2 separate regions of the Homo sapiens genome follow, and region 1 is linked to region 2. Evidence: fine-mapped expression QTL. A gene starts in region 2. The other region holds a variant in brackets. All regions are shown on one strand. Distances are from middle to middle.

Region 1 (4,390 bases), 11 kb after region 2:
GCCTCTCTTTCTGCTGCTGTAAACCAAGGAGGGCTTGAATGGTGAGGGCTGTCCAATCAATGACTGAACGTCTCAGGCTCCTCAGTGATGAAATGAGAGTACTTAGGCCTGCTTCCTGGGGCTAGTGGTGGATATTAAATAGGGTGGTGGTGTTAAGCCCCTGGCACGTGGTGGGCATGCAACGCATGCAGCCATGAAGGATACTTTCCTTATCTTTAGCACTTTACAGTGTCTAGCACAAAGTAAGCACCCAGCAAAAGATGCTCTTCTTTATTCTTGTAGCTCAGAGTTCTTTCACCTCTAAGACTACAAAAGCTCTCTCCAACTATGCAATTTTTATAATTAAGTATTTATTTCTTCTCCCCCAGCCCTGTGCCCATCCTGCTGTGATTCAGGAGTCTCGCAGAAGACATCAGAATGCCTTTCTCTGAGTCACAGTCTGTATCTTCTAGAAAAGGCTGTCCATCTTCACCCCAAGCCCACTGGCTCCTGAGATACGACATCCAGACCCAGTGCAGCTGGACCTGGCCCAGGTAAGCCAGGCTTCCCAGGGTCCGATCCCAAGCTTGCAGGGTTGGGTGGGAAGCTGGACCCAGGCAGCCCCACCCCGTCCAAGCTTCTCCGGATGTGGGTACAGAGATTACAAGGCCTCCAGCCTCCTCAGAGGAAGTACCCTTCCTCCTCTGCCCTGTGGGCAGACTGGACTTCTCTAGCAGCTGCAAGAGACTGCAAGATTGTTATTTGAGGTGGCTAAACTCTCACCAAGTATTCTTCTCCTCACTGCCTCCTCCACCTGCCCCTCCAATTTCCCTCTTCCCTTCCCAGCCCTTTTTCCTTCCTCCTCCTCCACTCCTCCTCCTCCTCTTCCTCATACCCATTCTCTCCTCCTGTTCTTCCCTACAGCTGTGCTTTTGACCCAAGTGACAGTCTGCTTATATTCCTAAGGGGAGAGTCCCAGCCAAGGGGAGAGAGATTGGCTCCTCTCTGTGGCTTCACGCCTCCCCTCTCAGTCCTTCCACAAAGATGTTCTGGTGGCCTCTGGCATATGAGGCCACCAGAACATCTGGCACTGGGCCAGCACCTAAGGGGCATAGCCAGGGGCTTGCACAGAGCTAGTTAGCCTGCTGGCCTGGGCCAGGCAAGCACACTTGGTTGGTTGGGTTGCATATTAACAAGGTGTCACTTCTGGCCACCTTCTTTACTGTCTCAAGGTCTTGCATGCACGCTCTGTTTCTAGAGTCATTTCACTGTGTCCCCAACAACTATTGTAACAACATATTACCTTAACTTCAACTAGCAGGTGCCACTTTGGGAGAATGTGGTTTTTTGTTTTTTGTTTTTTGTTTTCTTTTTGACGAAGTTTCACTCTTGTCGCCCAGACTGGAGTGCAATGGCATGATCTCGGCTCACTGCAACCTCCACCTCCTGGGTTCAAGCAGTTCCTCTGCCTCTGCCTCCCGAGTAGCTGGGATTACAGGCACCCACCACCACGCCTGGCTAATTTTTTGTATTTTTAGTAGAGACGGGGTTTCACTATGTTGGCCAGGCTGGTCTCGAACTCCTGACCTCGTGATCCGCCCGCCTCAGGCTCCCAAAGTGCTGGGATTACAGGCGTGAGAAAAAGTGTTTTAGAAAAGAGGTTCCTC[C/T]TGTTTCTCTCTATCCCCTGCCCACCAGGAAAGAGAAGCAGCGCTTTTTTGTTTGTTTGTTTGTTAGTTTGTTTGTTTGTTTTTGTTGCTGTTGTTGTTCTTTTTTGAGACGGAGTCTCACTGCATCACCCAGGCTGGAGTGCAGTGGCATGATCTTGGCTCACTTCAACCTTTACCTCCCAGGTTCAAGTGATTCTCCTGCCTCAGCCTCCCGAATAGCTGGGATTACAGCTGCCTGCCACCACGTCAAGCTATTTTTTGTATTTTTAGTAGAAACAGCGCTTCACCACGTTAGCCAGGTTGGTCTTGAACTCCTGACCACAGGTGATCCGCCCACCTTGGCCTCCCAAAGTGCTGGGATTATAGGTGTGAGCCACTGCACCCGGCCAAAAAGCAGCACATTTAATGGCACAAGTGGCCAAATGAGTAACGGGGCCACCCAGCTAACATAGCTGGCTTGAGTATGGAGTACTGGCAAGGAAGGATGTCAGGAGAGGAGGCTGGAGACCCAGCATGGGCCAAATCATGCCAGCAGCCACCACTGGAAGCCATTGCCCCTCGCATTCTGCAGCAAGGACTGCCTCTAGGAAGATATGGAGGCTGGGCTAGAGAATGGAGAGAAAAGCAGCAGGCAGACCCAGAGGAAAACAGTGACAATTCTTCTGGCCCCATCGAGCCTCTTTAATCCCAAATCTTTTCTTCCAAGCCACCCCTGACTTTACAAATCTCAAGGGTTCTAAGAGGCATGTGTTCATTCCCAAGCCACTTCTATACTCACCTGTGCCTTGCTGCCTGAGTGACCTTAGATAAGTCCTTTAGCCACTCTGGACATATTTTCTTTGCATGTAATCAGAAAGAAGGTGTGTGTGTGTGTGCATGAGAACACACACACACAACCACCAAAGGGTGGTTACAAAGCTTTAATAAATAAGACAATGTTACAAGGAAAGCACAAGCAGTTCTCTTTAGCTCGCCTTCAGCTGCTATTCCCATTCTACGAGGGGAAATCCTCACCCGGAAAACCTTGTTCACACTGGCACAGGTCCCAGGGCGTGAGCCCCTGTGGAGGCTGGGTCTCTCCCTTTCCATTTCCCTTGTTGACTTCCAGCGCGACTGTTGTTAGCTCGCAGATGGACAGGCAGTGCTCCATGACTTGCCAGCTGCCAGGCTGAATCTGCCTTGGTTCCCTAGGAGAACAAGCCTGATATCAAGGATGCAAAGGGGGCCATGGGGCCTCTGCTCAAGGCGGGAATCTCGGGTGTCTACACAGAGTCAGACAAGGGCTTGTGTTTAGGCTGCAGCTTCGAGATAACCTGCCACCTCCAGAAAGCCTCCCAGCAAGATAGAAGTTGGTGAGGTGACCTGGGAGTTAGGAAAGAGCAAGCAACAGGGGAGGAGAGGGAATCCCAGGAAGAGAGATGGAGCTTCGCAAAGGCACAAAGGTGTGAACGAGCAGGACAGGTTTGCAGTTCGTGGCCGCTACTGCCCTGAACACAGCTTCTCTGTTAATTAGTCACATTTTTGCTTTGATCATTTCTTCTCCCCAACTGCCCCATCCCCATCAACTGCCAATTTTCGTGCAGATTCTACCATCTTGTGGGTCTCTAGTATCCATTTCCTCTTCTCTACCCCTATGGCCATTGTCTGGGACACATAGCTCTTCTGGCCTAGACTAATTAGAACAGTTTTCTAACCCATCTCCTTGCCTCTAGTTTCTCCCACCTTCCAATCCATCCACCTCATAGTTGCCAAAATAATCTTTCTGACTGTGTTCCTTTTCTGCTTAAGTCCTTCAAGGACACCCCATCAACTCTGGGACCAATTCTGTAGCTTAGGACTCAGAACTTCCATAAGCTGATCCCATTGTCTTCCTCTCCTGCTTAATTTCCCAACAAAACCTACACATACCCTGAGTTATTACCACACTAACTATCAGTTCCCCCAAATAAGGCGTACAGTTTAATGCTGTCTGTTGCTCTTCCTTTTACCTGGAATTCCCTCCACCCCTATCTTTCTGGCTAACTCCTACTCCTTCTTCAGAACCCAGCTAAGGAATCACCTCCTCTAGAAAGGTTTTTCTGACCCCTCCTCTGTGCTCTCAGAGCCTGACAGCACATATATCTCTAGTATCAAGGTTCTTAGGGCTGGAATTCAGGAGCTTTGTGAATCTGTATGGGGGAAGAAATGTTCACTAACTTGTACATAAAATTAATTTAACATTTCCTTCAATTACAAATGTAGGCTCAAATCACAGTGATATCAATGGTTCCTGTAATTTATTACTAATAGAAATCATAGTTATGTTCATACCACTTTACAGTTGTTACAGATTATCTAAAAATTGTATCTATGATTATCAATATTTTGAAAATAAAATAGTTAATAGACCTATAGATCTGGTTACTCAGTGTACAAATATGAAACCACATACATTATTACCAATTTATTTTTTTCTGTATTTTGTTAACTTTTGAAAAATAATTGCTTTCTTTACCATTGTATGTGCTTAATTTTATGCATTTTAAAATGTTATTCTGAGAAGAGGCCCAAGGGCACCATCAGACTGTCCAAGGGCTTCCCAGCATGAATGGTGACACCTTCTCTGGCATAATGCTCTTAAATCCCCACTGTAACTGTTGGTTTATCTTGTTCTCCTCTGTCAATAGAGTGTGTGCATCTTGAAAGAAGGGGGCCCTCTTTTTACATGCAAGACTTAATGCAGTGCATGGCACCTAGCATATTCC
Region 2 (4,376 bases):
TTTGTTTAGCTGTGTTCGCAGTTGTAATTCCATAGAGGCAGCAAAGGTTCTCTCTTAGCTGGGACTATTCAGGAGTGGGAGAGGAAAACCAATGCATTTTAACACAGGATTGATGTTTTCATCTAGATGTGACATCTGTGGTGGTGTGCTATGGGGCAGGAGGAATAGCATGTGCAAAGGCATGGAAGCAAGAGCAAGCTTAGAGTATTCAGGGGACTATGCGAGATTCTCTGGCTGGGAGTGGAGCTGGGAATGTGGTAGGAGAAAACGTGAAAAAGGTGAGTTAGTACTAGATTGTGGAAGGTCTTGAATGCCACCCCAAGGAGTCCGGACTTCATCCTGTTGGGAAAGGTGAGCCTCGGGAGCTATTTGAGCAGGATATTTGTGGTTTTTCATTGTTTGTTTGTTTGTTTTTAAAGACAGTAAACTGAATAAAACCTGGAGCCAATTTCTCCCTCCAGTTTTGCAGGTCTGATTTAGCCTAACTTTTTGCTAATGTGTTCGCTGCCTCCACCACACTCCAAACCCTACCTCCAAGGAAATGTATCTCAATTGACTGGGAATTATAGATGCACATTTCTGATGCTTTGAGTTCAGCCCACTCCCAATCAAGGCTGTACTGAAATTCCTTAGCATCCCACAGCTCTGTCCCCAGGCAGGACCCCATCAGTGGGGGCTGGGGGTGAGGCCCAAAAAAGTAGGAGCAGAGGCTTCTGTCCTCTGGCCACCCAATTGTAAACTACTCCTGAGACCCTCCCTTGGTGGAATTCATATTCTCCCTTTTCTTAACCCTTAATACAAATCATGTCTTCCTGGAGCCCAAGTGCAAAGTCATGAATGAAACTCACGTAAAAAGGCAGCTGTACCCTTTTTGGCTGTTCAGGATTCTTAATAATGAACAGGCTTGAAAGACAATAGGTTCTTTGTCCCCAGAGGTATCGAAACAGGCATGTGTTAGAGAGGATTCTTGCAGGCCTTGGGAGCCAAAGCCTGACAAGTGATGATCCTACATCCCACCCAACTAGTTACAAGCTTGTTAACCTCTAGCCTCTGTTTCCTCAGCTATAGAAAGGGGATCATAGTAGTGACTTCTTTACAGGGTTCTTGAGAATACTAAACAAGACAATGATGGCACTTGGCCCAATGCCAGGCACTAAGACCTGCCCAGAAAAAGCTGGCAATTATCAAAACTGGTACAATCCTCTACCTCTGAGTTCATGGTAGCCAGTGGTTGAGCTTCATGCTTCCAGGGGCAAACCAGTCATTTATTTTTTAGTGTGACCGCTAACTGGGAACATTACACAAGCAAAGTCCTAGAGGCACAGAATTAATACACTGAATATTACCCTTTGAAGTCATCTAGCAGCGGGAGCCAAACTTATCATTTTGCAGAAGGGGAAACAGATTCAGACAGAGGGAGGAACAGGCCCAATCCAAACATAAAGTTAAAGGCAGAGCCAGGATGAGAACCTAGGTCTCTGATACCTACTCCTGCTCTTAACTCTGCAACATGCTTTCTATCTCACTATCTTAGTAAGCAACATTCAAGACCTTCACGATTCCGTCTTCATTCAGTGAACATCTGATTACTTAGAGGTTCAAATTGCTTTCTATATCTTAACTCATTCAATCCTTATAGCAACCCCACAAGGCTGATCTTATTGTCAATCTCCATGTTGTAGATAAGGACAGTGAGGCTGAAAGGGGTTAAGTCACTTGGTTAAGGCTCACAACCAGTAGGTAGTAAAGCCAAGATCTGAAACTGGACAGTTGGGCTCCTAAGCCTGTGCCCTTAACCACAACACCATATTGACCCTTCAAGAGTGAAAAAGTATGTGGCGTCTGCCTTAGACAGGCATACTCCCCAGGTGGGAGACACAACCTGCAATAAGTGTGTGCAACCTCATACTATGGGCACCAAGAGAAGAAAGGAAGGAAGGATTAATTTTACAGGGGGAGGAGGGAGAGAATCAGGAAAGCTGCCTGGAGGAGGTGAGCTTTATCCAGTTTCCAGAGCTGACTCACTTTCCTCCAGGTTTCTCTGCAGATGGACGAGTCTTTGCTGAGGCAGGCAGGTAGAAAGGGACTGGAGCTTAAGGGATGCAGTCAAGGAAGTCAGTGAGAGAGGGAGGGCAGGACATTAGGCTTGAAGTGTGTGAGGTGGGCAAGTTAATGAACCTCCAAGAGCCTCAACTTTCTCATCTGCAGAATGGGGATGATAACACCCACCTTCTGAAGCTGTTTGAATATTAAATGAGATAACGTGTATATACTTCCCGACCCAGTATTATTCCTCTTTATTTACCTTTCATAAAACTATTTCACTCACTAAAAATAAATTTAATTGAGCATATTTTTGACACAGTAGCATTAATAATCTTGAGTGTCATTATCAGTCATTCATAATAACAATATAATGAATAATAATGTTAATTGCCATTGACAGCACTAAGTGCTTAAAATGTATGATCCGTATTTATCCAATCTAATCCTCAGAATGTATCTTAAAGATAGGTAAGGCGTCATTATCCCCATTTTACAGATGAGGATAATGAGGCTGAGAGAGATGGAGAAAGATATACAAAGGTCACCCAGCGAGGAAGCGGCAGGATGGGTATTCAGACCCAGGTCTGTTGGTCCCAGAAAAATGTCCCCCCACACAGAGGATGTCCCGTGTTTGCAGTTCATGTTGGTCTTGGCCACGTCCCTCCGCTCTTTCTCAGAAGGAAAACAAACATTCTAAGAGGTCTGCTAGGCCGAGGGAACGCGAACGCCAAAGAGAGGGAGGGAAGGGGCTGGCCGAGGCCGGAGGATGGGCCCAGACTGGGAGGGTGGAGCCGGCTCCTCGCCCCGAGCCCGACAGCCGCATAAAGCCTGCTGCTTTCACTGGCCCGGTGGGGGCCAGCAGGGTCAGGGCCCGCGGAAACCCTCAGCCTGGCGGGCCGGGAGGCCGCGGTGCTGCACTGGCTCGGCGCGCTCCCCGAGTGGCGCTCAGGCGGGGCGCGTTCATTTCATCTACAGACTGTCGGGAAGGCTTCCCGAACTCCTCCTCCCTGCCCGCCTTTGCGCAGGGCCGGACTCTTCGGAAACTGAAATCACGGGCCGCCCGGCCCCCACCAGTCCTCGTGGGATCCGGCCCGGGTTAACCTTCTATGGGGAGGCCCAGGAGGGCCGGGCGGAGCGCCGGGGCGGGCGTGCGCTGACGTGGCGAGCGGCTCCCTCCACCCGCTCCTCCCGCGGGCACTGCCGAGGCCCATGGGCGGGAAGCCGGGCGGCGGGCGGGACGTGGCCTCGGTCCCGGCCCTGCCCCGCCCCGCCGCCACTGAGACTCCCAGCGCCACCAACGTCGGAGTTGCAGTTTCTTTAGCTGTCATATGCAGACAAGTACTACCCACCTCGCCTTTGGAGTGAGCAGCATGTATGTACGGTACCTGACACCTAAGAAATGCTCAATGTATGGTCCCTACATGGTGTCACTGTGATTGTTGTCGTTGTGGTTACGCTGGGTTGGGCAGCTCGCCTTGTGAAATAATGAGCTCCCATTGCTGAGACCGTTCAGGCACAAGTTGAATGAGTTCGGGGGACAAAAAGAAATACGTTAGAACAGGAAGTCCCCCAAATTTGGCATCCCTCAATACCGATCTGGTGACTTCAGAATCACCTGGGAAGCTCAAACAGCACCTCAGACCAGGGATCGAAATCCCGGAAGGCAAGCTCGTCTAAAAGTACAGCTTCATGTGTAAACCACTGATCTAGGCCAATAGTCCCTGCACTTTTCATCTTCAAAGACCCTTCTGTGATTCCCTCCTGCCCCACTGACTGCACAGTGTAAAGTATGTTGTTGACCAAACTAGATTTAACTCACAATTAATTTACTCTCTAACTAAATTATTAATCAAAGCCCCAGAGTTCATTAAACAATTATTGAATACCTACTGTGTGCCAGGCACTGTGCTGGACACTGGTGGTCTGGCGGATAGACAAGGACTCTGTCCTCATGGACTTACCAGTCTGGGGAGGGAAAGCAGAAAATGAACAAGAATTCAAATACTGACACTGAAGCCAAGAGAATCCAGCTGAGCTGAAGGCACCCAATATTCCTACAATGAGCAGATATGGGTGTATCAAAAGCAAAAGCAAATAGAAGCCTGGCACGGTGGCTCACATCGGTAATCCCAACACTTTGGGAGGCCGAGGCAGGCAGATCGCTGCCTGCCTTAGAATATATTGTGATAGAGAAGAGTCCATGAGTTCAAGACCAGCCTGACCAACATGGTGAAACCCCATCTCTACTAAAAATACAAAAATTAGCCGAGCGTGGTGGCGCACTCCTGTAATCTCAGCTATTCAGGTGGCTGAGGCACAAGAATCCTTTG

Evidence for each region. PIP is the estimated chance that this variant, and not a neighbour inherited with it, causes the effect. A credible set is the group of variants that fine-mapping cannot tell apart.
Region 1: its variant is the best candidate, but not a certain one, in a credible set for the expression of LINC02777 in whole blood (TOPMed, PIP 0.80).

What each region holds. Positions count from the first base shown.
Region 1 is chr1:58,891,988-58,896,377 of GRCh38, reverse strand. The region is part of intron 1 of JUN-DT (JUN divergent transcript); the gene reads right to left. LINC02777 (long intergenic non-protein coding RNA 2777) reads left to right here. Exons shown (of 5, transcript NR_183656.1): 3 at 369-533. Among named protein-coding and RNA genes, the nearest start is that of LINC02777, 10 kb to the left of the region's middle. The variant C/T (reference allele first, on the strand shown) is at 1,647.
Region 2 is chr1:58,902,610-58,906,985 of GRCh38, reverse strand. It overlaps LINC02777 (long intergenic non-protein coding RNA 2777), which reads left to right and starts at 2,848. Exons shown (of 5, transcript NR_183656.1): 1 at 2,848-3,418. RefSeq lists silencers at 2,755-3,004, 3,065-3,454.